Homo sapiens: one gene and its partners. The protein of the gene in region 1 interacts with the protein of each later gene in a pairwise test. Each region holds a gene or a part of one and is shown in the gene's direction. Other genes may lie near its edges. The genes, in order: MTG1, STX2, KRT37 and ERICH1.

Region 1 (7,614 bases):
GAGTTCTCGGTTAACATGCAGTGTCTCTGTGGCTCAGGAAACCCACGGCTCCCCGCGCCCAAGAGCGTCCTGCGGTCTCGCTGGCACAGCGCCCCGTACACTAGGGGGTCCTACAGCTACGTGGCCGTGGGCAGTACTGGGGGCGACCTGGACCTGCTGGCTCAGCCCCTCCCTGCAGACGGCGCCGGCGCCCAGGTATGTGGCGTGCCCCAGTCGGGGGGCGTGGGTCCCGCTGCAGAGGCCCCCGCCGAGTCTGGGCGCTGCAGGAGCACCAGCCAGTGGCGGGTGGGCTGGGATCCCAGACTCGGAAGCCATTTTCTTTTTGAAACTAAGAATAATTTTTAAATGTACTGTTTTTGTGAGAATTATACACACACAGCTTAAAAAGTCAGAGAATTCTGCAGTGCTAACAAAAGAAAATAAAACCAAAATGGCAGGTGGAGCCCCTTTTGCCCTTCTCAGACGGTGCTCCCAGCTGATTCTCATCGCTAAGTTTACTGCATCTCTAAAAACATGTTTCTGCTACCACGTTTTGAGATACATTTCCTGTGCAAAATGTCAAACATACTAAAGTAGGGAGAACCTTTCAGTGCCCACCAGGCTTCCCCTAAGCCAAGCTTCTCCCCGCCCACCCCCGCCCTTTTTTATTAAGCATGACTCACACAGGACATTGTCTCACCTCAGGATATTTTGGTGCCTGTTTCTAAAAGATAAAGACATCCTTGTAAAATACTTAACTATGATGCTGAGGGCAGTGGCTCACACCTGTAATCCTAGTGCTTTGGGAGGCCTAGGCAGGAGGTTTGCTGAGGCCAAGAGTTCGAGACCAGCCTGGGCAACATAGTGAGAGTCGGTCTCCACACACACACACACACACACACACACACACACACAAGTAGCCAGGCATGGTAGCATGCACCTGTAGTCCCAGCTGCTCAGGCTTGGGCCCAGGAAGTTGAGGCTGGAGTAAGCTATGACTGCACCACTGGACTCCAGCCTGGGTGTCAGAGCAAGACTCTGTCTCAGAAAACATAAAAATAAAACCATATAACTATGATACCATTTACCCACTTAAAAATTAATAATCATTCCTCAATATGATCCAATATTTAGTCACTGTTCAGTTTTCCAATCAGCTCATGGTCTCTCTTCAGTGAACCTGCTTGGAAATGTTGCTTCTTGAGTTTTCAGTTTCAGGTGTTACTAATTGACTTCTCATTACATCAGATAAGGCTGTAGCTTTCTTCCTCTGCCCACCCGACTCCCAGATCCCTCCCCCACCCTCCCCATATGTGATCCAGGAGTTGAGGCCAGATCACTATTCAGTGTTTACACCCCTTGTTTTCTCTAAAAGCTGTTCACACCTGAGCTGCGGGGTGCAGTGGCTTCCTTTCCCACCCATTGGTGGATGCGTGTGAGCCGTCTTCCCACCCGTTGGTGGATGCGTGTGAGCCGTTTTCCCGCCCGTTGGTGGATGCGTGTGAGCCGTTTTCCCGCCCGTTGGTGGATGCGTGTGAGCCGTTTTCCTGGCTGTTGATGGATACATGTGAGCTGTTTTCCTGCCCGTTGGTGGATGTGTGTGAGCTGTTTTCCTGGCTATTGGTGGGTACACGTGAGCCCTTTTCTCGTCCGTTGGTGGAGGTGTGTGAGCTGTTTTCCTGCTTCTTGGTGGATGCTTGTGAGCCATTTTCTGTGTTTCCTTGCCCAGACCCTGCTGTCTGAATTGCATCCCCATTCTAACCCTGGCTCTTCTTTGCAGCTCCAGATCCTGTTTGCGGGGGAAGCCACACATCGCACGTTTTACTCCACGACGCACGGGGCTCTGCTGTCGGGATGGAGGGAGGCCGACCGCCTCCTCAGTCTGTGGGCCCCGCAGGTGCAGCAGCCCAGGCCCAGGCTCTAGCTGGGCCCAGCCTACTCTGTTCCACCCGTGTCGGGGGTAGGCTGGGACCCTCATTTCTTCTGACAGATTTCAGTCTGGCTTGAAATTTGGGGATGTTAATGAGGGTCCTCTGGTTTTTGGTAACCAGGGCCACCTTCTCAGTTCTTGTGTCTGTTATTGGAGTCTGGCCAGGGTTGACTTGAGCTGAGACACCAGATGCTCACGGAGATGCTGGACACATAAAGCAAGTTACAGCCACAGCTCCCAGAGCCATCTTTCCTGCCTTGAGGCTGTCCTGTCCTTCCTGCCTTGGGGCTCCAGCATCTGCTGCTGTTGTCTTTGTCTTGCTCCGGGCCCAGGTTGCACAGGGCCCTGTGTCTCCAATCCCCACAACCACACATGGCCCCACACTCTGGGTTCCCTGAACTCTGGGTCCTGTAGTTGCTTCTCGTGCCCCTGCATTCTCGTGGCTGCTGCCTGGGATGACAGCATAGCTGACAACCCTCCTCTTGCTCATCAACTGATGCTGCATCAGGCGCCCACTTCACAGGTTCGCAGGGCACTGGGGAGATGAGGGGTGCCCTGCCCTGCCCTGAGGCCGGGGGTTTTCTGGAGGAAGTGAATACATAATAAGGCCTGAAAAGAGAAACGGTGCCCAGCCCATGGGAGCCAGGGAGTGTGTGGGGCGTGGGCAGTGCTGGGGTGAGTGTGCTGGGTGCTGGGGGGTGTTGGGGTGGGGGCAGTGCTGGGGTGCTGGGGGGTGTTGGGGTGTGGGTAGTGTTGGGTGCTGGGGGGTGTTGGGGTGAGTGTGCTGGGTGCCGGGGGATGTTGGGGTGTGGGCAGTGCTGGGGTACCACGTGGTATTGGGGTGAATGTGCTGGGAGTCCAGGCCCCTCTCCGGCCCCTCCACCCCAGCCTGGATCTGCAGGGCTCCTCTCTTCTCACCCTCTGGTCTCTGTTCAAATTGCCCCTCCTAGGATGTTCCCTGACCCCACCCTCCCGAGCCCCAGCCTCCCTCTGTAGCCAGCAGCCCCACCTGCATTTGCTGTGTCACCAGACTGTTCTCTCTGGGGACACCTGCCCATCAGACGCCTGGGAGAGAAATTCAGATTCCACAGGGTTTTATTGTGGTTTTGTGCTCCTAGGACCATGAGGGAATGCAGCTTCCTTAAAGTACAAAAATCTTTATCATTGACATTTAGGGTTTCATCAATTCTGTATCCCAGGGAGAAAGGCAGCAAGACCCAGGCTGCCCCCTCTGGGTGTGAGGGACCGGCTTGGTGAGGAGGGGGCTTGGGGGCATTGACCTAGCAGGAGGCCCTGACTGCCCCCACTCAGCCCAGAAACCACCTGGGAGGCTTCTGTCTTCCACGGAGGGGCCACTCTCTCATGCCCAAAAATATTTACAGCTAGGCGTTAGGGTATTAGGTGGTTTAAGAACATCAGAACCATGGCAATATTTTTGTACTTAGAATTTGAGCATGTTTGGTATTTTCAGTAGCTTGTTTAAAAAATTCCAGTAGAGGCTGGGTGCCATGGCTCATGCCTGTAATTCCAGCACTTTGGGAGGCTGAGGTGGGCAGATCACCTGAGGTCAGAGTTCGAGACTAGCCTGGCCAACATGGTGAAACCCCATCTCTACTAAAAATACAAAAAAAGTAGCCGGGCGTGGTGGTGCGCACCTGTAGTCCCAGCTACTCAGGAGGCTAAGGCAGGAGAACTGCTTGAACCCCGGGAGGCGGAGGTTGCAGTGAGCCAAGATCACGCCACTGCACTCCAGCCTGGCGACAGAGCGAGACTCCGTCTCAAAAATAAAAATTCCGGTAGAGTAATACTCTTGTAACGCAGTGTGCAATTGAGCAGTTGCTGACTGCTGATTTAGAGTTGAAATCCGACTATATTTATGTCTAGTCTTGGACAGTGGAGAATATTTCAGCCTCATTAATTAATCGGTTTAATTTAGCAGAACTGCAGTCAGTATTTGGAAACAGTTTGTTATATTAAACCCTGAAGTACTTGAGGCTGCGCGCGGTGGCTCATGCCTGTAATCCCAGCATTTTGGGAGGCCGAGACAGGTAGATCACTTGAGGTCAGGAGTTGGAGACCAGCCTGGCCAACATGGTGGAACTCCATCTCTACTAAAAATACAAAATCAGCCGGCGTGGTGGCAGGCGCCAGTAATCCCAGCTACTCCGGAGGCTGAGGTGGGAGAATCCCTTGAACTCAGGAGTTGGAGGTTGCAATGAGCGAGATCGTGCCACTGCACTCTTGGGCAACAGAGCGGAGACTCCGTCTCAAACAAAACAAAACAAACAAAAACCCTGAAGTACTTAAAAAGAAAATGAAGAGATTACATTTATAAGGTAAATTTAAAGTATTTGAGAGATTTTAACCAAATTGTAAAAAGAGATTGCTAAATTTTTACACTTATACTCAGGATATGCTTAAGGGAGAACGATGATTTTTAATATTTAATGAATGTTAATAAATCTGCGAATTACTTAAACCCACAAAACCCAGGAACCTCCCCGTCCCCCCGGGTCTCCTCGCAGTCCCGCCCCGACGCTCGACCCACCATTCGTCCCTCCCTCTGGGCCCGGGCCCCGCCCACTCCGGGCTTCGCCGGAGGCGGAGGCAACGTCGTGCGCACGCGCAGGCCGTGGTGCGGCCCCTTGGAGCGCCGGAAGCCCGCAGTGCCGGAGGCCCGCAGCGCCGGAACCTCAGAGGCGGGTCGCAGCGGCGCAGAGGAGGTCAGCTGCGGGAGCGTTTCCGGGGACGGTGCCGCCATGAGATTGACCCCGCGCGCGCTGTGCAGCGCCGCCCAGGCCGCCTGGCGGGAGAACTTCCCCCTGTGCGGTCGCGACGTGGCGCGCTGGTTCCCGGGCCACATGGCCAAGGGTGAGGCACGGCGGGGAGGGGCAAGGTCATGCCTACGGCCGCGGCGCCTCTGCTTCCCTCCCACCCCGGTTTCGGCCGTCGCCTGCTTCTCCCGGTCGTTCTGGGCTGGCCCCGCCCCTCCTCCCTTGTCTCCCCTCCTTCCCCGCTCTCACCCGCTCCCGGAGCCGCCGGGACCCCTTCCCCTGCGCAGCTGCGGGAGAGGCCCGTTCCCGCGAGTGCCCCCGCGGCGCAGCCTCGGACCCAGGGCCTGCTTGACCTCCTACCTCTGGCCCGCCGCCCCTGTCCTCTGTTCCCAGCAAGTTCCTTCTGCCCTTTTAATCCCCCGAAGCCTCCGTTTCCACATGTTCTTGACAAGATAGACTTTTCTGAGTCTTTTGGGGACTAAATGAAACAGTGGGTATGAAGGCACCTGTTCAGTTTTAACTGGTATCTTGAGTCGTTCTCCTGCTTAACGTCTTTGGTAATTCTTACTGTTTGTCACAATTCGGCCCCAAGAAGACCTCTGGGGCCAGCCCAGCCCGTCTAGGTGTTGTGATGGCCACTCCTGCGTCGGCTCCGCGTGTACTGGGGGCCGAGGGGGAAGAAGGGCCCGTGTGGGTGACTGAGGCTGTGTCCTCGGTCTTCGGATAACACTGGAGGGGAAGAAAGCTGGAAGCTTTGTTATCTTGGTTGTGTGTGGTATTCCTGGTTAGGGGACTATCGTCATCATCCCCGCGAGGTAGCAGGGGCCTAATGAGCCAGTGTTACTCTGTGTTATAGCCCAGATTAAGACCCGTGGAAGGGCCCGGCCCGGTGGCTCACGCTTGTAATCCCAGTACTTTGGGAGGCCGAGGTGGGCAGATCACGAGGTCAGGACATCGAGACTATCCTGGCCAGCATGGTGAAACCGTGTCTCTACTAAAAATACAAAAAATTAGCCCGGCATGGTGGCGCGTCCCTGTAGTCCCAGCTACTCGGGAGGCTGAGGCAGGAGAATTGCTTGAACCTGGCAGGCGGAGGTTGCAGTGAGCCGAGATCGTGCCACTGCACTCCAGCCTGGGTGACAGAGCAAGACTCCGTCTCAGAAAACAAAAAAGCGACCCATGCACGTTAAATATTCCACCCAGAGTCAGCCATGAGTCAGGTGGTGAAGACCGCATCTGGCTTTTGACACATGGCCCACCCTGTGGCAGGGTGCCTCCCAGTCTCCCACTCCGAGGGTGCGGACCTTGGAGGAGGCGCTCAGCGGATGTTATCTGTTACCATTACTTAGTACGCTTCCCTCAGATATAGTCTTTTTAGGTTATTTATGGTGGCGTGTCATTCTGGACGGTTCAGCTTGAATCGATCACTCTAGAAAGGTTGTGAGCCCCTTCGCTGAGGCGTCCTTCTGTTTTCCAGGGCTGAAGAAGATGCAGAGCAGCCTGAAGCTGGTGGACTGTATCATCGAGGTCCACGATGCCCGGATATCCTTTCACAGAGCAGGGGAGGCCCCTCTGCCTGAAGTCATATTACACATTAGAATTACCTGGGGAGGCTTTTAAAAATATGAATTGCGAGGCCCCTTTCTAGACCAGTTAATCAGAATCTGTGATGTGGGGTCCAGACTGCGTGTCTTTGAAACTTCATTGTTAATACATATATCTGCGTCACTCAAGCCTGACGGTACGGTGCAGCAGTGGAATCCTCTAGATGGGCTATGAAACTGTTTAAATGTTCCTGCCAACTGGGGCTTTTCTCCTGTACTTGAGGAATGAATTGGCAGGATGTGATGATTCGTTCACTGATGGCAAGAAAAAAAGTTGGTTGGCTGGTAAAGCTTTGGAGGAATTTTTACCTTAATTTTGCCACATCCCACTTTCAGGCCGCAACCCTCTGTTTCAGGAAACCCTTGGGCTTAAGCCTCACTTGCTGGTCCTCAACAAGATGGACTTGGCGGATCTTACAGAGCAGCAGGTAAAGGCCTTTCTCTCAGACGCCTTCAGCAGTGTGGCTGTGTTTTCCCGAGGTCGCTTGTTCTAACGGAAGAGTTGCCGGACGCACACTTGTCAGTTTGCCCAGGCAGGCTCTGCTTTAGAAACAGCCCTTTGCTTTGCAGAAGCGTGCCAGCATCGTTTCTCATATGGCGTGCCCCCATCTAATGTGTGGTTCGTGACCTGGACACCCAGGGAGTGCACGTCTCCTGTGGGAAGTGGCCAGGTTGTGCTGCCAGAGCCCGAGTGGTCAGTGAGTGCGCATTGTGGGCAGCAAGCCACCCAGGTGCCGAGGCAAGAGACCGAGGACACGAGCTTTTCCAGTGTAATAAAACATATGAAATAAGAATAGTTATACTAGATATAGGTCATAGATATGATTGTATATGAATATTACTAATCATTAGTTTGTAGCAATTACTCTTCATTCCAATATTATTATAATTCTTGCTCTATAATCATAACCTAGGAAAAACCAGGCCATACAGAGATAGGAGCTGAGGGGACATAGTGAGACGTGACAAGTGTGTGAGCCTTCTGTTATGCCCAGACAGGGCCACCAGAGGACTCCTTGGTCTAGCGGTAACGCCAGTGTCTGGGAAGACGCCCGTTGCCAAGCCGACTGTGGTCTAGCGGTAGCGTCAGTGTCAAGGAAAAGCACCCGCTACTTAGCAGACCGGGAAAGGGAGTCTCCCTTTCCCCAGGGGAGTTTAGAGAAGACTCTACTCCTCCACCTCTTGTGGAGGACCTGACATCAGTCAGGCCTGCCCGCAGTTATCCGGAGGCTTAACTGTCTCCCTGTGATGCTGTGCTTCAGTGGTCACGCTCCTAGTCCGCCTTGATGTTCCATCTTGTACACCTGGCTCTGTCTTTTAGATAGCA
Region 2 (7,023 bases), on another chromosome or scaffold:
GACAAGCTCTCAATGAAATCGAGTCACGTCACAAGGACATCATGAAGCTGGAGACCAGCATCCGAGAGTTGCATGAGATGTTCATGGACATGGCTATGTTTGTGGAGACTCAGGTAGTTACAGACTCTTGCATTCTCCAAGAGAGATATCAGTCATGTGTAAAATCTTACTGCATCCCACTCTGTCTAGTGGATGTATCTAGGAAAGCTGTTATTTTGGATCCACCAAATTCAGGTTAATTGCAGTGTTATATGTGATGCTGAAATGCTGGAAGCAGCTTTAACAGTTGAACTGTTAACAGGAAGGGACTGGTTCAGTTGATTAAATTATGGAGTGTTCATAGGTCAGCCTTTTAGGCAACCATAGGCAACCTAAACTTTGTTCATGGAGAATTCTTACTGAAATATGCAGATGTTTGTGCTAGAATTAAGAGAAAAGGGAGATACAAAGATCTTCTGTGTATGCCCGTACATATGTATGAGTACATAAACACAAACACATGGCACGAGCTTGGCTCCATAAAACAGTATCCACAGAAGGAAAGGCGTATATCAAACAGTGTAATGGCAGTGAGACTATGGGAATTTTAATCTTCTCTAAAAGTATTTATTTTCAGATTTTCTATAAGAAGCATATATTACAGTAATAACTAGGAGAAATGTCTGAAAGAATCAACCCCAAGTGGGGATACAATCTATGACACAGATGCAAGCTTGTGCCTGTTACACGGGGTTTCCCATCTGCCCAGTAACACAGATAGGGAGTGAAAGCAGGTGTGGAAAGGCCCTTCTGAGTGAACCGAAGAGTTAATGCAATTCTTAATAAATAGAAAACTCCTCTGGGAGGCTGAGGTGGGAGGATTGTTTATGCCCATGAGTTCAAGGCTGTGGTGAGCTATGATCATGCCACTACACTCCAGCCTGGGTGACAGAGTGAGACCCTGTCTCCAAAAAAAAAAAAAAAAAATACACACATATATATGTATGTATGTATATATTGAACTCTCCATGTAAAGTACGGGATGGATCACAGATCACATGCTCTGTGATGTGCATGGGTATGTTCACACTCGCTCTTTGTCTTTGAATAAGGTCTTCTCGTTATTTTTCAAATACCATGGAGATAAGACTCTGTTGCTGGTTAGGATTCAGCTGACCACCAGGTGAAGCGGAAGCATTTATATCAAACCATCCTAAGTAAATGGTTTCCTCACTTGTCCTGAGCCTGGTTTCGGATCTGTTTTGGCTGGAGTCATCCCCTAAGTAGGTTCACATCTGATGGGCTTATTTTCTGAGACTGCCTGGATTGTGTAAGGATAGGAATCCATCCACACACAGGATTGTTCCTGCCTGCTTCAGCAACCTTGTTAAGAAACACTGTATTTTGAAGAACTTTATAATGAGAATGTGTGTGAAAAACTCAGGCACCATGCCTATTTTTTTTTTTTTTTTTGAGACAGGGTCTTGCTCTGTTGCCCAGGTTGGAGTGCAGTGGTACAATCTTGGCTCACTGCAACCTCTGCCTCCTGGGCTCAAGCAGTTCTCCTACCTCAGCCTCCCGAGTAGCTGGGACCACAGGTTTGCACCACTACGCCCGGCTAATGTTTGTATGTATAAGCATTTGCTAGAGGAAACCAACAGCTACACAGAGGGCAGGGATGGGACGATCTTACTCCTTTTTGATTTTGGGGGCCCCGTTGCCATTCATTATATGGTAAGTGGAGTGTGGGGAGTCTGATTACCATTGGTTACTTATTTCCAGGAAGCATTCCAAAGGAAACCAGCTGGACAGAAAGAACGAGAGATGATTTCTGTAATTACTAAAGCTTTTGTAGTACCTTAGACTTCAATTGTAATTGCTCTATACCAAATGCATTGCATTAAGCTCCGTTAGAAAAATGGCTGCATCCCTGGCTTTGTTTCACTGTTTCCTTTTAGAAGTCTGTTGGTATTGCATTATATTGACTCATCTAATGCAAATGTGTGCATAGTCAGAGATTACTAGTAAGTTGAAGTTTGTGACTGAGTGAGTTAACTCTCCGTCATTCTTCAATGCTTTACGATTCACTGCTGCAGGTTGTGTCTGGACAGACAACCAGGTAATACGTTACCTCCCTCACACTTTGCTGAATTCACCTCTGTTTACATTTTGCTCATTAATGTAGTCAGCTGAGTGTCAGATGTGAGCTATGCTCAGTTTACTGATTTAAAGAAGTAGTTACAATTTTCTACTTTGTGGAAAAGATGTCATTCTTTGTATATTGTCTGTCTGTGCATAATGGTAAAATACTAGTTCAACCAAAAGCTGGCTGCCTCCCTTCACCCTGCCCATCTGTCGAAAGTGTCTGCGTGTTAAAGGTATCTCAGAATTGACTTGAGGTGCCTTTAATTATCAACATGGTGGCCCATTCCTTTTCATTCTTTTTAAAATATAAATTGAGTTTTGATTGCTTTGCACTGGCACATGTATAATGGCCTCATCTTTTATCTTTCTGTAAATGTGAAAAAAACCCTCAGTATCCATTACATGCACATCGTGTTTATATAAAACCTTTGTTCTATGGTTGTCTTAAAGATACATGATTAAGCCATTTGAAAATGTCTTCTAAGTTTGAAACTTTTTGTTTTAAGGGTGAAATGATCAACAACATAGAAAGAAATGTTATGAATGCCACAGACTATGTAGAACACGCTAAAGAAGAAACAAAAAAAGCTATCAAATATCAGAGCAAGGCAAGAAGGGTGAGTTTGGCTTCGAAGAATTAAGCTGCGTTTTTCTCTTCATTTGGTTTCAAGTTGTAATACATTGATGTAAGCCTGCCTAAAAGGTATTCCAAGAAATAATTAATTAATAAATGTTTTATTTTAAAATGGAAATAATTTTTTTTGCTAAAAATTTAAAAGGTTTATTAGATGAATTATTTGTAGTTCATCTTTTGTGTTCTAAGTAATTGAAACCCTAGGGCTGGGTGTGGTGGCACGCCTGTAATCCCAGCACTTTTTTTTTTTTTTTTTTGAATTGGAGTTTCGCTCTTGTTGCCCAGGCTAGTAGAGTGCAATGGAGTGATCTTGGCTCACTGCAACCTCCACCTCCCGGGTTCAAGTGATTCTCCTGCCTCAGTCTCCTGAGTAGCAGGGATTACAGGCACCCGCCACCATGCCAGGCTAATTTTGTATTTTCAGTAGAGAGAGGGTTTCACCATGTTGGCCAGGCTGGTCTTGAACTCGTGACCTCAAGTGATCCGCCCATCTCGGCCTTCCAAAGTGCTGGGATTACAGGCGTGAGGCACGGTGCCTGGCACCAAATTGTTGGCTACACATTTGATGCAGTGAACATTTATTTTTAATTTAGGTTATTCGTGACTTCTTGGTTTGGAGGAAAGAAGAGAATTATTTGAGACCGTGGACCTGCAGTCTTAGGTAGCACCCACTTAAAGGGATCCTCAAAAGAAGGGAACCCCTTTCACTCAAGATGCACAGACTTTGCATTAAAAAGGGTTCAGGGAACCCTGTGTGATTTTTTTGTTACGGGGCAAAAATTTAAAACTTACTCTCCTAACTTAGGCATTTTATGATAGTGCCCCTGACACTGGAGAGATTATGGGTTTTTCACATTGTCACCTCCTTGTGCTAATACACAGAGATGCTGATTTTCACCGTGTTAGGAAAAAATGGAGTGAGACGGTGTGTGTGGATGCACCTCCAGGCGATGGCCCTGAGACGCACCCCCGGGCTGCAGGCTCAGCCGCCAGGGCACACCCTCACTCACACCCCCGGGCTGCAGGCTCAGCCGCCAGGGCACACCCTCCGCTTTTCCTGGGTATGTCTAAGTATGCTCGTCATCTCTGAAATGCCAGACATGGTTTCTCATGTTATTTCATTTATTGCTTTGAAAAAATTGGCCCCTAATGTAAACTGAGGTGAAGAGATACCTGTATAAAGTGCTTAACTTAGTTCCAGGCCTAAGTCAGCTTTCATTAAAAACAGGCAGTCCTGTTCCTTTTCTCCATGACCTGAACACGTCAGTCTGGTGAAAACGATAGTGAAAGTTCGTTGGTTTTACAAAGGGGGAAGGTGGTGGGTGTGATACGTTTTCATTCTCCTCTGTGGATGAGCAAGCCTGGCTCTGTGAGGTGCTTGGGGTCTGTGCGGTAGCTGGCGTATAAACTCGTCAGAGACGTGATGCCTGTTTCAGAAATGACACTGTCTTTTTGATGAGATGCCTGCTAATGGAACCCTCCTGGCTTGTCTCCCTGTCCCCTTGCCGCTCAAATGCTTTGCTGCTGCCCCTGGCTCAGGTGTGGGTCGTCCCCACTCCTAGTGTCCTGCATTTATTCCCGCGGAGCCATGTGGCCCTCAGAGGGAGGCCAGGCAACGTTTGTAGAAGGGTTTTTTTTTTCTGTGTGCTATGTCAGGAGCAGTGAAGAAGTAACTGCCAAGAACATAAAAGAAGGAGCGAAAGGCCAAGTACTGAGTGTGTCGGGGCTTCATGACGAGGCAGTGGGGCTCTCCGTCACTGAGCTAGCAGGCCCGCACCTCTGTACATGCGGAAAACTAACTGCATGTCTCAGTCATCAGAAATGTGGCAAAATGACTTGGTCGTGCTGTCCCCATGGATGAAACCTGAAATAACAGTTACATAGCAGCTTATCGCCAAGTAGTCTGACCTTATTAAGTCACTCTCTCAAGAAGTCGCCCAACAGTATTAAGCAGTGTCCTGTAACTTAGCTTCTAAAGTGAGTTCTGATGGGTTGTTTTGCTTTATTTTATTTTATTTTTTTGAGATGGAGTCTTGCTCTGTTGCCCAGGCTGGAGTGCAGTGACACGATCCTGGCTCTCTGCAACCTCTGCCTCCTGGGTTCAAGTGATTCTCCTGCCACAGCCTCCTGAGTAGCTGGGATTGCAGACCCACGCCCGGCTGGTTTTTGTATTTTTAGTAGAGACAGGGTTTCGCCATGTTGGCCAGGCTGGTCTCAAACTCCTGACCTCAGGTGATCCATCCGCCTCGGACTCCCAAAGTGCTGAGATTACAGGCGTGAGCCACCACACCTGGCCAGGTCGTTTTATTTTAAATGAAGGATGTCTTTTAATGTGGCAATATGAAATTAACCATGCATGATATAATCAGCTTGCTTTTCTTTGACAGAAAAAGTGGATAATTATTGCTGTGTCAGTGGTTCTGGTTGCCATAATCGCTCTAATTATTGGCTTGTCAGTTGGCAAATGATGGTGTGGATAACGTCAGTGTGCATGCCTCTCTGCCAGGGTGGGAGTAAGTAACTCATCAACTAATTTACTTATTAACTTTTGCAATTAACCAATAATAGTATTTGCTTAATTGTAATAGACATAAAACTAATAAAAGCTTGCCAGCCACGCAGTACAGATAATGCCATCTAGTGATACATCTGCCTGTGTGCTGATTCGAGTGCCCAGCCACTGTGTTTACTGAGAACAAGCACAGGCTGGGCGGTAACTCATTTTTAAACCAAGGTCACCTTCTTATCCCGTTTTTAAAAGTGTTTTTGAGACAGGGTCTAGCTGTGTCACCCAGGCTGGAATGCAGTGGCGTGATCATGGCTCACTGCAGCCTCGACCTCCTGGGCTAAAACTGTCCTCCTACCTCAGCCTCCCGAGTAGCTGGGACTACAGACGTGCACCAGCACACTCGGCTAATTTTTAAAAAAATTATTTTTAGTAGAGACGAGAACTCTCTGTATTGCCCAGGCTGGTCTCGAATTCCTGGCCCTCAGCCTCCCAAAGTGCTGGGATTATACATAGACATGAGCCACTGTACTCAGCCTGAATCTTTTGTTTTTGATCTAAGACCATTAGCTCTTTACATGTAGTGGATCCTTCATTAAATGTCATAGAAATTCAGTGAAGATTAATTCTCAGTTGTAATGTTTTGTCTCCTGAGTTTTAGCTTTTAGAGTAATTGCAACACTGAAAGGTACTTTATAAAATACACTAACGCATCATTTTACTATGGAATCGAGGGCATGGATGAACGCTGAGAAAAACATTGACTGAAAGGAACATCCTTCGACCTTTCTATAGGCAGCATCTATTTTATTTAAAAATATTTCCTTTAATATTAAAAGGAAAATTACGTATTATATTTAGTTAGCATGCCTGTTAATTCTTAAAGAATTCTGAATATAAAAGGTATCAGTTTATTTAAAGAATCAAGGTGTGAGTGTCACCTTTCCTAAACTTCAGCAGGCTTTGTGGTTTCCCCCTGGTTTTCTTCTGCATTGGGAGCCATCCTTGCACTGGCCCTGAAGTGGCAATGCTGTCGGTGTGTTACAGGTGGACACAGCAGTGATTTCTCTGTAAATGTTTGGCACAATTCTTGTATTAGACAGTTGTGAACTGTTCCCAGGTGTCTAGAGTGTGGCAAGTCATCCCCAATGAATTTATTCTTGGGTTATGGAAGTGACTGCAGACTTGATAGTCACCCAAGGCTTTTTAAAAAGTTAACATACAGCAGAAAGGAATCACGAGCATGGTTAAGTCTCACTATTGCTTTGTAATCTTTAAGATTTATTCCTTCAACATGGCAACACCCTGTCTCTACAGAAAAAAAAAAATCCAAAAACTAATTGGGCATGGTGGCACACGTGCCTATAGTCCCAGCTACGCCAGAGGCCGAGGCAGGAGGATCACCTGAGCCTGGGGAGGTCGAGGCTAGAGTGAGTCTAGATCGCACCACGGCACTCCAGCCTGGGTGACAGAGCGAGACCATCTCAAAACAAGAGATTGATATCTTAATGTGAGCATCTGTTACGCTCACCATGCAGTTACCAGATGAGAAGTTTTCCAGTTAGTCTTCTGACATTTATGCAAAAGCCACAAAATTACACCTGAAATTACTCTGTAAGGAGCTCTGGGATGCTGCGTGTGTTAACATTCCATTATTTGGCAGTCAGAACTCTCTTACCGTCTATTTTTATTAGGCAGGATGTTTGTGTAGGATGTTTATTAGGCAAGATGTTCTATTTTTTTCTTCTTAGCTTTGCTG
Region 3 (7,407 bases), on another chromosome or scaffold:
ACCATGATTTTAGCCAATGGGATAAAATCCTGCCAGAGGATAGGGTCAAGAGAGGGTTCCTATTTAGCAAATCAAAGGGAAGAATTTTAATGCTTCAATTCTCTGGATTATAGTGATGCTATGTGTTGAGGCGGAAGATAGGAACAAAGGGGTCTTTGAAGATGGAAAATGCAGATTGCACCCAGAGGCCTCTGAGGGATGGCCTGGCAGGGAGAGGCCCTCTAAGGATTGCCCCAGTAAAGAATGAGTCATAGCTGACCTCAGGGCCGCTGGAGCCACAGCTGACCCACAGTGGGTTTTCCTCTTGGGAAGAATTCCAGACCCCTTATTTCTCCTTGAGAGAATTCCAAGAGCCCAGGTTTCATCAACACCATCATCCCCTGACTCCCTTGTGGTTTTCACGGGGATGCATGTTCAACTTTTTCTCAGAGCAAAGATGTATTTATGCTGTTTAAAAATATATGCACACAGTTTTATGTATAATGTGGCATCATAACTTGTAGGGCATTTACTCTTATTTTATACATTCAGATATGTTTGGTTTTTTTTTTGAAACACTTCTTAAGGCTACACAACAGGACAGAGAAAAATAAACAGGAACATATTCAACAATTATAAAACATGATATGATAAAGAATATAAAGTACTAGTTTCCTTTCAATACTTCAAAAGATACATATATAAACTTTAAAAAAATGCTCAACATCACTAATGATCAGGGAAATGCAAATCGAAATCACAATGCGATACGACCTTGCTCCTGCAAGAATGGCCATAATCAAAAAAATAAAAAAACAATAGATGTTGGAGTGGATGTGGTGATCAGGGGACACTTCTACATGGCTGGTGGGAACGTAAACTAGTACAGCCACTATGGAAAACAGTGTGGAGATTCCTTAAAGAACTAAAAGTAGAACTATCATTTGATCCAACAATCCCACTACTGGGTATCTACTCAGAGGAAAAGAAGTCATTATGCTAAAAAGATACTTGCACACACACATTTGTAGCAGCACAATTCACAATTGCAAAATCACAGAACCAACCCAAATGCCCATCCATCAGTGAGTGGATAAAGACACTGTGGGCTGGGCACAGTGGCTCACACCTGTAATCCCAGCACTTTGGGAGGCCAAGGCGGGTGGATCACCTGAGGTCAGGAGTTCAAGACCAGCCTGGCCAACATGGCGAAACACCTTCTTTACTAAAAATACAAAAATTAGCTGGGCATGGTGGTGGCACCTGTAATCCCAGCTACTCGGGAAGCTGAGGCAGGAGAATCTCTTGAACCTGGGAGGTGGAGGTTGCAGTGAGCCGAGATGGTGCCACTGCACTCCAGCCTGGGTTACAAGAGTGAAGCTCTATCTCAAAAAAAAAAAAAAAGAAACTGTGGTACATATATATGATGAAATACTACTCAGCCATAAAAAGGATGAATTAATGGCACTTGTAGTGACCTGGATGAGATTGGAGACTATTATTCTAAGTGAAGTAACTCAGGAATGGAAAACCAAACATCATATATTGTCACTGATATGTGGGAGCTAAGCTATGAGGATGCAAAGGCATAAGAATGATACAATGGACTTTGAGGACTTCGGGGGAAGGGAGCGGGTGAGGGATAAAAGACTACAAATAGGATGCAGTGTATACTGCTTGGCTGATGGGTGCACCAAAATCTCACAAATCACCACCAAAGAACTTACTCACGTAACCCACCTGTGCCCCAATACTTATGGAAAAAAACCCCACCACTTATGGAAAAAATACCACCTGTACCCCAATAACTTACGGAAAAAAACCTAAACTTTTTTTTTATAAGTAACATCACAGATGCTCACATCTTCACATGCTTTTAAGTATTATTTGTACTCAGTGTAAGGCTATTATCATTTTTCATACATAAAGTTTTTTTTAGCTGTGTAACAATGCAATTTGTAATCCATTCAAGTAAATTCAGCCCCAAAGTTGTTGCTTCCCAGCATTAAGTCCTGCGCCCACCCCTCTTCTAAGATTTTCTAAAACTTGTATTTCAGAGGAAAAAAGTGTAGCTGAAGGGAATGCATATTTGATGCATATTTGGCTACACGATTTCTGTTTACTGTATTTTGCTTCCTATTTTATGTCTAAATCCTATTATTTTCATTTAAAATCTTAATAATGGCTCATTTCCAGTATGTCAATTTCAAAGACTTAAGGTTTTGCTACTAGTATCAGCCATTTACTTTCCCACTAATTGGGATTTTTTTTTTTTTAAAGAGTTTATTTATACTCTTTTAGAGCTTGTCCCATGGTCCTTCTGGTTTCCCTCTACCACTTGGGAGGGATGACTCCTGGCCACACCCCCATTGGTTGACTTGTTTTCCAGCTCTACTGGAAATCTCTGGGATTTGGGATATACAGTCAGAATGTTTCTGTCAACGACAGACCACATATACGGGCGGTGGTCCCACAAGATTATAATGATGCTGAAAATTCCTATTCTCTAGTGATGTGGAAGTGGTTATAATGTCGTAGTGCAATGCATTACCTTTTCTATGTTTAGATACACAAATATTATCGTGTTAATAATAGTTGCCTATGATACTCAGTACAGCAACATGCTGTACAGGTTTGTAGCCAGGTGCTATAGGCTGTGCTATACAGTCTAGGTGTGTAGTAGGCTCTACCATCTAGGTTTGTGTGAGTTCCCCCTATAATGTTTCCACAGTGAAGAAATCTCTTAACGACGCATTTCTCAGGACGCACCCTGTCTTAAATGATGCATATGTTACAAACTAGCGTAACTTTTTTTTTCTTTTTTGAGACAAAGTGTCAATCTTGTTGCTCAGGCTGGAGTGCAATGGCGCAATCTTGGCTCACGGAAACCTCCGCCTCCCGGGTTCAAGCAATTCTCCTCCTCAGCCTCCTGAGTAGCTGGGATTACAGGCATGTACCACCATGCCCGGCTAATTTTATATTTTTAGTAGAGACCGGTTTTCTCCATGTTGTTCATGCTGGTCTCGAACTCCTGACCTCAGGTGATCCGCCTGCCTTGGCCTCCCAAAGTACAGGGATTACAGGCGTGAGCCACCGCGCCCGGCCTAGTTTAACTTTTTAAAGTGCATTTTCTTGTTGTCACTGCCATAGTATTTAAATCTTTTCCTTTGCTGGAACACAAAGACCTTCAGTAATTTTCTTTTCACCACAATTTCTCATCCAGTAACTAAGCCCCTTCTTGCCCTCTCCTTAGGCCCAGCACTGACGGGGCAATGACACCGTTGTTCTCACCGGGGGCCATGATGAAGTGAAAAGAGAATGGGCCTAGCAGACATGAGACTGAATCGAGCCTTTGCCAGTTCACTAACTGTCAATCAGAAAATGTGCAAATGTACTTCACTCTAGTTTTCTCATCTGTACATTGAGGCAATGAGTAACCACCTCATAGGTGGTAAGGGTTAGATAGGAAAGAACACAGTAGAATGCCTAGCACACCTAAGTACTCAATCAATGTTAGTTCTGGACCTTTCATTTGAATACTGCTTGAGCTCTGTGCCCAATCTCCCTTTCCTGGATCAAATAAGATTTTTCTTTGTTAGTGATTTCTTTCTAGATACTTCCTTGGCCAGAACTATAGATCCTCTGTCTTTCACTAACTCTTGTTGATCTATGGTTCTCATTCAAGTTTGTGTAGAACATCCAGAGATTTCAGAGGCATTGTTTACTCCTGATGAACAGGGAACATTGCGTGTCCAGGAACCAGCACACTGCCTGAGTTATGGGGGATATTCAGGAAGCATGCTGAACCAATGAATGAATGAACAAATGAATGAATAGCTGATTCTGACTAGTCAACCAAAACTTAATTAGCGCCATTGCTTCCAGATGTTATTGCTTCTCAAGGGAGTATGCAATGTGAAAGAAGAAAGAAAAAAAGGCGCCTCTCAATCGTCAAATATCAGTAGATGCATTGGTTTTATTAACTGATATTTTCTCTTCAAAGGAAAGGCTGATTCAGTCTTGCACAGGCGAAAGATCCAGTGGGTCCCATTGGTTCTCTGTGTCTCCTGCTACACAAATTACTGACGGAAAGATTTGAGCCTTCATTGTGACCACATCCACAGAGACCATAGTCCAGAGAGAGCAATTGGGGCCTGAATCAACTGCTGGTGTTTGTTGAGCAGAAACAGTGAGTCTCTGACTTCCCACCAACAGCTAACCTGATATGGAAGAGCCAAGAGGCATCTCAGATTTGTCAACATTGCTTTAATGAGCTGAGGAACTTCTCATGGTAAACTCAGCAGCTGAGTAACAGGATGATGGCACCACAACAGGTAGATAATCAAGGCAGGAGGTCAAAGCACTGGAGCCAACACCCGCCCAGGATGGGGTATAAAAGGGTTGGGAGGAGAGGAGGCTTCAGTCTCAGTGGCTCAGCCTTCCCAGCTGATCTGAAGCTCCTGTGCAGCCTCAGCCCTACACCATGACCTCCTTCTACAGCACCTCCTCATGCCCTCTGGGTTGCACCATGGCTCCTGGAGCAAGAAATGTCTTTGTCTCTCCTATCGATGTTGGGTGCCAGCCTGTGGCAGAGGCCAATGCTGCCTCCATGTGCCTCTTGGCCAACGTGGCACACGCCAACAGAGTCCGTGTGGGGTCGACTCCCCTGGGCCGCCCCAGCCTCTGTCTGCCCCCAACCAGTCACACTGCTTGTCCCTTGCCAGGGACCTGTCACATTCCCGGCAACATCGGAATCTGTGGGGCCTACGGCAAAAACACCCTGAATGGCCATGAGAAGGAGACCATGAAGTTCCTGAATGACCGCCTGGCCAACTACCTGGAGAAGGTGCGCCAGCTGGAGCAGGAGAATGCAGAGCTGGAGACCACACTCCTCGAGAGGAGCAAGTGCCACGAGTCCACCGTGTGCCCCGACTACCAGTCCTACTTCCGTACAATCGAGGAGCTCCAGCAGAAGGTGAGGTGTGGGATCGCCTGGGCATGCTGGGTCTGAGAAGGCAGAAGCCTTCGCAGGAGGAATCTGCATAAGGTCCAGAGAGCTTTGGGTTCTTGGTTTCTCTTGGACATGAGCGTAAATACCACACATGGAGTGGGAGCTTAGAGTATGGTGCTTTGTGTGTGAACCGTCTTTCCGTTTTCCTCAGATCCTGTGCAGCAAGGCTGAGAATGCCAGGCTGATTGTACAAATTGACAACGCGAAGCTGGCTGCTGATGACTTTAGGATCAAGTAAGTCAGGATGAGGAGGGTCAGTGTGACTTCTCTCCTGCTGTATTTCCAAGGGCCCGCCCCATTACTCAGTCTATATTGTAGGTGTTCAAAAACAGTTTTTGACTAGAAGAATATTTCTCTCCACACCTTAAATTAGCCTGTTGCTAGAAATGGTCATTATATAGGAGGAAAGAGAATATAAGCATTGAAAGAAAAAGAAGGGCTGTAGTCTAGATTGGTTAGAACCTATGTCACTTTCTCCCATATCTAGAAGATAAGAGGATTTTGCTTTTCAATCAGAAGTAAAATTGAGTCATCACAAAAATAAACTGTCAATGCATAGGTTGTTGCTAGACTCTCTGACTCTTGGCCAAATCCATCAGCTGGAGGAATTGTCATTGAAGCTCCTTGGTAGCTAGAGTTGTGCTTGAATGAAGGGGAAAAGCAAGAAAACAACGAGAAATAATGAATCCAAGAGGAAAAGCAGCAAACTGAAGGTCCAGAGGCTTATTTTTAGCCATTCTTTTTCCTGGCCAAATGACTCCTATTATGGCAGAATAAATGCTGCATTTGAAGTCAGAACACTTAGGATGAGTCCATGCATTTACTATTAACTGGGCATGGAATTCTGAACAACTCGTGTTTTGTTTCTGAGCCTCAGTCTTCCATCTGGTCAATGGGCATAATGTCCTGACTACAAACCGTGTCGCTGCAGGGTTGAGAATAGTGTATACTGCCCACGTGAACAAATAAGGATCCAAGGTGGTGTGGGAGGTAGGAAGCCAGGGCAGCTGAGAGGGGCTATTGGGGCATTCTTTTTGACCCTGTGCCTCCTGTGACGGAAGGCTGGAGAGTGAGCGCTCCCTTCACCAGCTGGTGGAGGCGGACAAGTGCGGGACGCAGAAGCTCCTGGATGACGCGACCCTGGCCAAGGCCGACCTGGAGGCCCAGCAGGAGTCCCTGAAGGAGGAGCAGCTCTCCCTCAAGAGCAACCACGAGCAGGTGTGGCCCTGGCTGCTCAGACTCCTGGGGAGGGCGCTGGGCAGACAGGGGAGCTCCCCGGCCCTGGGGCTCTCAGAGCATTGCCTGGGCTCAGCTGGCCTAAGGATGCAGGGCTGAGGTGGGTCTGAGGGTCCAGAGGGCCTCTGTGGAAAGTGCAGACTTGCCTTGGGCATGAGGAAGGTGTCCAGGTGGGCTCTCCCAAATGCACTCTGGACAAGACTTTCCCATTTGCTTATGTGTGGGACTCCCCTCCTACTGCTTGCCAGGGACGGAGTCCTGGTGCTGTCTGCTCCATCAAAGGCCGTTTCCTTACGCAGGCTGTCTATCGCTTCCATTTCTGCAGGAAGTAAAGATTCTGAGGAGTCAGCTGGGGGAGAAGTTCCGGATCGAGCTGGACATTGAGCCCACCATTGACCTGAACAGGGTGTTGGGGGAGATGCGGGCTCAGTACGAGGCCATGGTGGAGACCAACCACCAGGATGTGGAACAGTGGTTCCAAGCCCAGGTGAGTGGGGGTTACAGAGCCAGGGAGTACCTGGCCTCCATCTGAGCAGGGAGGTGACTGTGTTTCTCTGTGCTCCAGTCTGAAGGCATCAGCCTGCAGGCCATGTCCTGCTCCGAGGAGCTGCAGTGCTGCCAGTCGGAGATCCTGGAGCTGAGATGCACGGTGAATGCCCTGGAGGTGGAGCGCCAAGCCCAGCACACCTTGGTACGTGTCCTTCACCCTCACTGCACTGCAAATGCCCCATGCCATGTCCTGGTAGTAGCATCTCTTAAAGTCTCACAAATCAGTTCCTTCAACATTAAGTCAAGATCTGGGGTCCTCTATACCCGATGGAGACGTCTTGCTGTCAAGTTCAGTGTGACCCAGGGAAATGGTTTCTTCAGAAAATCAAGTCCACTTCCTTTACAACACAGTGCGGAAGTTCAGGCACTCACTCCACAAGATTTTACGAGGTGCCTGCTTTTTGTCAAGCACTGGGGATACAGGGATGAACATGACAGTTCCTTAAGTTAGATTTGTGTGCATGAGAGAGAAGTCATGGTCATGTTGACAGTGATTTCTCCAGAGCTCTGAGAATGTCCTATGACATTTTGGAATTTGCCCTATGTGTGATGAGTTTGGTCATGATTTTCACTGCTGAGTTTTGGGGCACCTGGATCTCTTACCCCATTATTTCCCATTACAGAAGGACTGT
Region 4 (7,023 bases), on another chromosome or scaffold:
TTTAGCAGCTGTAAATATTTAGACATATTATTTGTCAGCAAAGTTATTTTTAGATACCTGGATATTTGTATTAAACTGAGTTAAAATTTATTATAATTCTTGTTGAAGAAAAAATCTCCCGCTTTATAATGAGATATCCATTTTGACATCTATTTGAGATCATCTGTTTTTGTGCCTGTTTACAGGACACTTTATGAGTAATTCATGGGTCATGGATAATATGACACAAAACCAGCCTTTGCCAATATTTAATATCAAAATCATGCTGTAACTCCTGTGAGTGAAGCATTGTGCGGGACGTGCTCGTCTTTTCTGTGACAAGGCTTACCAGAAGTAGCAGGGGTCAGAGTGGCTTCAGGCTCATTCCAGCGAAGGAGCAGATACGGTGACCTCCAGGAGTGTGTGGGCCACTGGGAAAGACGTTTTCCTTCACTAGGTTCTAGAACACCCATGCAACATGGAGCCCCTTCAGCCATAGGGATTCATGATACTTAAACCAGTTTAGCTTAGGCTGCTGAAAGGTTTTCTTTTTGCTTTAGTTTATTTTGACGACCGTGCTCAAGTTTGAATTTGAAAAGGGACATTGTCTTTCCCGTGGCTGTAAACTGTACAGACCTTTATGTGTTGACCGTCGTGAATTAGCACATCCAAATCCCTACGGCCTTCTTCCCACTCCCACCCTCCATATGAAAACTCGGGATTTAAACGTTAAGGACTAAAATTGTATACTAAAATTGTATTGTTTGCTTAAGATTTTTAAGCAGCCTGTTTTCCTGCATTCTTAAGTAGTTGCATGCTCTTCCTGGCATCCTGATTATCCCAGTTATCAGCTTTGTTATCCTGTGTGTCTGTGGCTGACACTGGCGCGGTGCCAGCATGCGTCCTCGTCCTTCATCGTGGGTACCTCAGCGTTCTGCCATCGGTCATGTCCGTGGGTGACGCTGGCGTGGGGCAGGTGTGTTTCCTCGTCCTTCCTCGTGGGCACCTCGGCGTCCTGCCGTTGGTATGTCTGCGCGGCCTGCATTTGCCTCTCAGAGGTCTCATTTGTCTTTGAGGGTGTCCAGGACATTCCTCTTCCTCCAAGTCCTCTTTTGTGCAGAGCAGTCAGTGATTTTCAAGGACTGACATGATGAGATTTTGTGTTCAGAAGACAAGAGGAGCAAGGTGCACGTCTAGGGCCGCGTTCTGCTTTCTAAATGTTGGTCTTCTTGGAGAAGGGGCTGGTTCCAGGCCTAGGCAGAGAAAATACAAGATGAGCCTGCGGTACCTTGTAGGGCCTTGTGTGCTCATGGGAGGGCCGGGTGGGCTGGAGGGCACCAGGTCCATGCTGGAGGGCGCTGGGTCCACACTGCGGTGGACCCTGTGGCCAGTGCTGGGACTATTTGAGCAACAAAGTATATCCGGACAGTACAGGGTGATGGTCCTTGGAACGAATGAAACATCTACGAGTCCTTAAAGTATTAAATAGCACAAAGGTAATAATTCAATACATGTGCAAGTGTGGGCACTTCAGTACAAAATTCCACGTGATAAACATGGAAGGAGTGAGGAAGGAAAGCCACTGAGGAGCCCACAGCGACGTCTGCCACCGCCAGGACCCACCAGCGGATGCCAGAATTAGTGGGTGAGATTGAGGAGGAAAAGGATCTGGTCCCGCGGTGTCTCCTCCACAGTGTTTGTTGGTTATGAAGGAAAGAGAGTCGCTTGGCAGGGAGAAACCCAGCAGACCTCACAGCACCTGCGGGCGACCGCGGGCGTCAGCTGAGAGAAGCATCTCAGCCAGATGTGGGCACCAGCGCCCATCTGCAGTTCTGCAGAAGTGAATGACCTCAGTGTCACCCTGAGAACACTGGACCCAAGTTACTGCAGTTCCAAAAAATAACTGCCCCAAGAGATGTCATGATGGTGGAGTACAAGGAAAATGGGAGAAAAGTGAGGCATGGAGGGTGGATGGGGCAGGATCGGAGCCTGGTCGATGTGGGAGCCCGCTGTTGGATGACGGCTCAAACAGCCAGGGCTGGGGTGGGGCAGAAACCCAAGTTTTCACGGTTGAAACGGCCTCCCTGAGCCTCGCCAGGCCTGGGGCTTTCGTGTGGCAAAGCCCCGAGGGTCGGGCTCTCAGCCCAGGCAGTGGCCCCAGGGCCTGGGCTCCCGGTGGGAGGTGAGTCTGGGACCTGCCTAGGTGGTCTATGGGGAAGCTCCTCAGGAGGGTGTTGGGACATTGGCATGTGCACTGACAAACCGCACAACACACCTGGGTACAGATGGGAGCGCACAGAGAAGCCGCACAATGCACAACACACCAGGGTACAGATTGGAGTGCAATGACAAACCGCACAACACATGGGTCTGCATGGTTCTGGGAACCACCCCTCTCGAATCTGCTCGTGTGGCACCTGAGCAGGCGTGCAGGGGAATTGCAGAAATCCTAGAGGCTGAAGACCCAGAGGCCTTGGGGTTCTGTGGTCCCTGCACGCTGTGCCAGCAGATTGATTCCTGGCTTTCAGGTCGTGAGGCTGGGATCACGTAAATCTCTTCCGAGAGAAATGCCTGTGTTACAGAAGGCGGAGCTTGTGACTCCCAGGGTGGCCTCTGCCATGTCAGTTATCCCTGAGAAACCCCTGTCAGCTGTCACTCTGAATTTAAAGCCAGCTGACTTTACATTGTTCCCGCCTTCTACTTCCATTTTAGAATTTTTATAAAGATTCGAAATGTACTGTACACCTATATCAGATATTTTCATTTGAAACATGAAATTTAACAGTGTTGGTGGAAAACCACTGTTAATTAGGCTATAAATGTAATTTATTTCAGGCAGTGGATGGAATTCAGTGAAAATGCTCCCTACCTTTCTTTTTTTTTAAGGCACATTCTTATTATGTCGCTTTTAGCTCCGAAATCTGCCTCAGGAAGCCTTGAAAGACCGTGACCTGGGGCCAGACTCAGTGCGCTCCAATCCGTACCCTGGTGTGTTGTGCGGTTTCTCCGTGCACTCCGATCCATACCCTGGTGTGTTGTGCGGTTTGTCATTGCACTCCAATCTGTACCCTGGTGTGTTGTGCGTTGTGCGGTTTCTCCGTGCGCTCCGATCTGTACCCTGGTGTGTTGTGCAGTTTGTCAGTGCACTCCAATCTGTACCCTGGTGTGTTGTGCGGTTTCTCAGTGCGCTCTGATCCAAACGCTGATGTGTTGTGCCGTTTCTCAGTGCGCTCCGATCCTTACCCTGGCGTGTTCTGCCATTTTCTTTGGGATCAGCTGCCTTGTTTCAGAAAACTCTGTCATCTGATGCTTGCTTGGGCCCAGCGTCTCCTGGCGGTGGCTGTTTAGTCAGGGCCTGCCCTGGCCTGCCCCCGTCCCTGGGACTGTCTTGTGCCTGCCCAGCCTCAGGCGTTCTGCAGCATTGCCTGGCTCTGACCATGGCCTGGGATTTCTCCATAGCATTTTCCTGGCTCCAGACACTCGCAGGCAGCTGTGCCTGGGGAGGCGACTTCAGCCACATGTCCGCGTTGGCTGCCCCAGGCCCAGCAAGGCTTTAGCTCTGAGCGCCCCTGTCCTTGTTTGCAGAATTGGACGGCTGGTTATGGTTTTGTCTTAGAATTTGTTTTGGCTTATGAAGATGTTGGATAAAGTGCATCTTATCTGCCTACCATCTCCTCTGCTCATCACCAGCTTGGTCATCTGGCACAGGACATTTTCTTCTTTGACATTTGAAGGAAATGTGACCATTGGATTTTTATCTGAAGTCTTGGAACCTTCTTTTGAACATACCTGGGAGCACTGCAGCACATTTTTAAAAGCATTTCACAGACCACCTGTTGCTCCCTGAGAGCCAAGGTGTCTCCGCCGGGCAGGTATGCTTGAGGCAAGGCCTTTCTGTAGGGGTGGGACCCGCTCACCACAGCCAGCAGGAGCTTTTGAGGTATCCTGTGCTAGTGCACTTCTGCATCATATTCAAAATATAGCGTATGGGGACCCTCTCATTGCCAGGACCTGGTGAAGAGCCCGGGGTCTCAGGGATCACATCGTTTCAGTTCAGGTTTTCCACTTAACCAGAGGTCGTTTCCTCCCAGCAAAAGCAGGCTTTGTGCTCACTCTCTGGGAGCCGCGGAGGTGGAGAGTCTGAGTGAGCAGCCACCTTGTTCATGACCACACTGCACCTCACTCCCACTGAGCTCTGTGCTCAGGGTTTTCATGGTCCATCCACGGAGGGCACGGGGAGCTCTGGTGAGCGTTGCGTGGAAACCCACATAGTGTTCTTAACAGCGGGGCCTGTAGGAGGGTTATTTCTATCACGTGTTTGTCCCAGAGGCCAGAATTAGGAAGGATTTGTGCCTTCAGCTACAGTGTTCCCAGGTAGGGCCGTGGAGCCTCCCTGCCTCGCCTAGAAGCCACCCCCAGCGTCTCCTCTCAGGGGGCCTATGACAGATCCCTGCACGCCTCCAGTCAGGCCAAGTCCCTGCCTCCCTGTTCCTAAAGGCACCAGGCAGTTGTTTCAGGAGTGCTGATTTCCACTGTGCGACTTTTGGTTATTCCAAAGCAGCTGCCTGTTTATTAACCACACTTAAATCAGGGCAGAAATATTTATTCATTATGACCGTTTGTCCCACAGTTTAAACAACGTAAACTAAAACAAGCAAAGTAAAGAATCTCTGTTTAGTCGTTAAACCACGTCAGATGCACGGAATTCTCCCCATTCGCAGTTGTTGACACGTTCAGTTTAAGGGAGAGAGTGCAGACCGTGGGTTCCCAGAGGGCGCGGGGTGGTGCCTGCCCTGCCTCAGGGCCCGCCAGACCTGCTCCATTCACTCACCTGGCTCCAAGCACTGTGGGCCACTGACACCGTCCACCCAGGACCACAGCCCCCACTGACAGGGGTCATGGCCTGCATGTGCCTGAACCTCACAGGGAGGAACCGAGGGACCTGCAGCCAGAGGCAGCACCTGCCAGCAGTGCACAGCCTCCTGGATGCAGGGTGATGCCCTGGAGAGAGGGTCAGCTGATGGCAGGATGGTGGGGGGTCCTCGGGCCAGCCTCAAGGGTTCCTCTGCGGGCAGAGTCTGGGGGATCCTGGTGTGCAGTGCCCAGCGTGGGAGGACCAGGGACTTGGGTCTCCGTTGGTGCTTTCAGGATGTGTGTGTTTGTGTAGAGTAAAAGTCACGTGTGATTCAGATAAACTGCATAATTCATTCCTTTTCCTCCTTTTCTTTTAATCGGTTGTCTGTACAGTGTTTGTGGAGAAGGTGCTGCAGAGACTTTTTCCTCCTGTTCCAAGTGGCCAAGGAAAGAGGGAACCCCAGACGCTGGCCGTCCAAAATCCACCAAAGAAAGTGACCTCTGAGAAAGTGAGCCAGAAACATGCTGAGCCTTTGACAGGTGAGTTTGTCTGCAGATGTGGGTGGGTCTCAGAAACTGAAGTTAACCTCCGTCATCATCACTTGCCTTGGAGAATGTGTCTTTTGGGCCTCGGGCATCTGTCTGCAGGTCTGCAGAGGGCCTGCAGCAGGTGGGCAGGGCAGGCATCGCTCTCCACACAAGCTCTGCCAAGGCCCCTGTGGACTCCCCAGCCAAGGCCAGGTCAGGGTGCTGCCTTTTTGGGGTCATTTACTTGTGTGCTCTGAAGATGGCGATTGGACTGAAACTGGGGCTTGGGCCAGCCTTCCTGTCCTCTGAGGAAGACAGGCGCCTTCCCCACCATACACCATGCCCCCAGTCACTGTGGTGGCCCCCTTGGCCCCGTTGGCTTGTGCCCACTCAGGGACAGGCTTCTGAGGTTCTTGTCCCGTGGTCTTTGGCAGACGTCTGTCCCATGACAGCCCCATGTTAAGCTCTTGGTGGCTGCAGGATCATCTGCCATGAGAGTCCCATCAGCTCTGGTCCCTGCAGTGCAACTCCGCTCACCTGTGAGACTGTGAGAGGACCCCGCTGAGAGACACGGGAAGAGACCACCTGGGTGCAGCACATCCCACTGAGAGACACGGGAATAGACCACCTGTCTGCGGCACATCCTACTGAGAGACACGAGAAGAGACCACCTGGGTGGACCACATCCCACTGAGAGATGCGGGAAGAGGCCACCTGGGTGCAGCACATCCCACTGAGAGATGTGGGAAGAGACCACCTGGATGTAACACATCCCACTGAGAGACACGGGAATAGACCACCTGGGTGCGGCACATCCCACCGAGAGACACGGGAATAGACCACCTGGGTGTAAGACATCCCACCAAGAGACACGAGAATAGACCGGCTGTGCGCAGCACATCCAACTGAGAGACGTGGGAAGAGAACACCTGGGTGGAGTACATCCCACCGAGAGATGCAGGAAGAGGTCACCTCTGTGCAGCACATCCCACCGAGAGACACGGGAATAGACCACCTATGTACAGCACATCCTACTGAGAGACGTGGGATGAGAACATCTGGGTGCAGCACATCCCACCGAGAGATGCCGGAAGAGGCCGCCTGGGTGCAGCACATCCCACCGAGAGATGCCGGAAGAGGCCGCCTGGGTGCAGCACATCCCACCGAGAGATGCCGGAAGAGGCCGCCTGGGTGCAGCACATCCCACCGAGAGATGCCGGAAGAGGCCGCCTGGGTGCAGCACATCCCACCGAGAGATGCGGGAAGAGGCCGCCTGGGTGCAGCACATCCCACCGAGAGATGCCGGAAGAGGCCGCCTGGGTGCAGCACATCCCACCGAGAGATGCGGGAAGAGGCCGCCTGGGTGCAGCACATCCCACCGAGAGATGCCGGAAGAGGCCGCCTGGGTGCAGCACATCCCACCGAGAGATGCGGGAAGAGGCCGCCTGGGTGCAGCACATCCCACCGAGAGATGCGGGAAGAGGCCGCCTGGGTGCAGCACATCCCACCGAGAGATGCCGGAAGAGGCCGCCTGGGTGCAGCACATCCCACCGAGAGATGCCGGAAGAGGCCGCCTGGGTGCAGCACATCCCACCGAGAGATGCCGGAAGAGGCCGCCTGGGTGCAGCACATCCCACCGAGAGATGCCGGAAGAGGCCGCCT

The links.
Region 2: the proteins of MTG1 (region 1) and STX2 interact in binary tests that used the Homo sapiens proteins (3 or more experiments, as listed by UniProt).
Region 3: the proteins of MTG1 (region 1) and KRT37 interact in binary tests that used the Homo sapiens proteins (3 or more experiments, as listed by UniProt).
Region 4: the proteins of MTG1 (region 1) and ERICH1 interact in binary tests that used the Homo sapiens proteins (3 or more experiments, as listed by UniProt).

The regions. Positions count from the first base shown.
Region 1 is NC_000010.11:133,389,553-133,397,166, forward strand, and holds the start of MTG1 (mitochondrial ribosome-associated GTPase 1), read left to right. Parts: upstream 1-4,604; 5' UTR 4,605-4,668; coding exon 4,669-4,780; intron 4,781-6,160; coding exon 6,161-6,225; intron 6,226-6,610; coding exon 6,611-6,715; intron 6,716-7,614. Other genes in the region: PAOX (peroxisomal N(1)-acetyl-spermine/spermidine oxidase), read left to right, coding at 38-195, 1,760-1,903. UniProt on the Homo sapiens protein: Plays a role in the regulation of the mitochondrial ribosome assembly and of translational activity. Displays mitochondrial GTPase activity.
Region 2 is NC_000012.12:130,794,243-130,801,265, reverse strand, and holds part of STX2 (syntaxin-2), read left to right. Parts: coding exon 1-113; intron 114-2,075; exon of another isoform or gene 2,076-2,098; intron 2,099-2,630; coding exon 2,631-2,741; coding exon of another isoform or gene 2,742-2,765; exon of another isoform or gene 2,766-2,876; intron 2,877-3,351; coding exon of another isoform or gene 3,352-3,423; exon of another isoform or gene 3,424-3,506; intron 3,507-5,145; coding exon 5,146-5,226; 3' UTR 5,227-5,271; intron 5,272-7,023.
Region 3 is NC_000017.11:41,421,579-41,428,985, reverse strand, and holds the start of KRT37 (keratin, type I cuticular Ha7), read left to right. Parts: upstream 1-4,400; 5' UTR 4,401-4,462; coding exon 4,463-4,954; intron 4,955-5,141; coding exon 5,142-5,224; intron 5,225-6,051; coding exon 6,052-6,208; intron 6,209-6,551; coding exon 6,552-6,713; intron 6,714-6,791; coding exon 6,792-6,917; intron 6,918-7,398; coding exon 7,399-7,407.
Region 4 is NC_000008.11:714,211-721,233, reverse strand, and holds part of ERICH1 (glutamate-rich protein 1), read left to right. Parts: intron 1-5,226; coding exon 5,227-5,373; intron 5,374-7,023.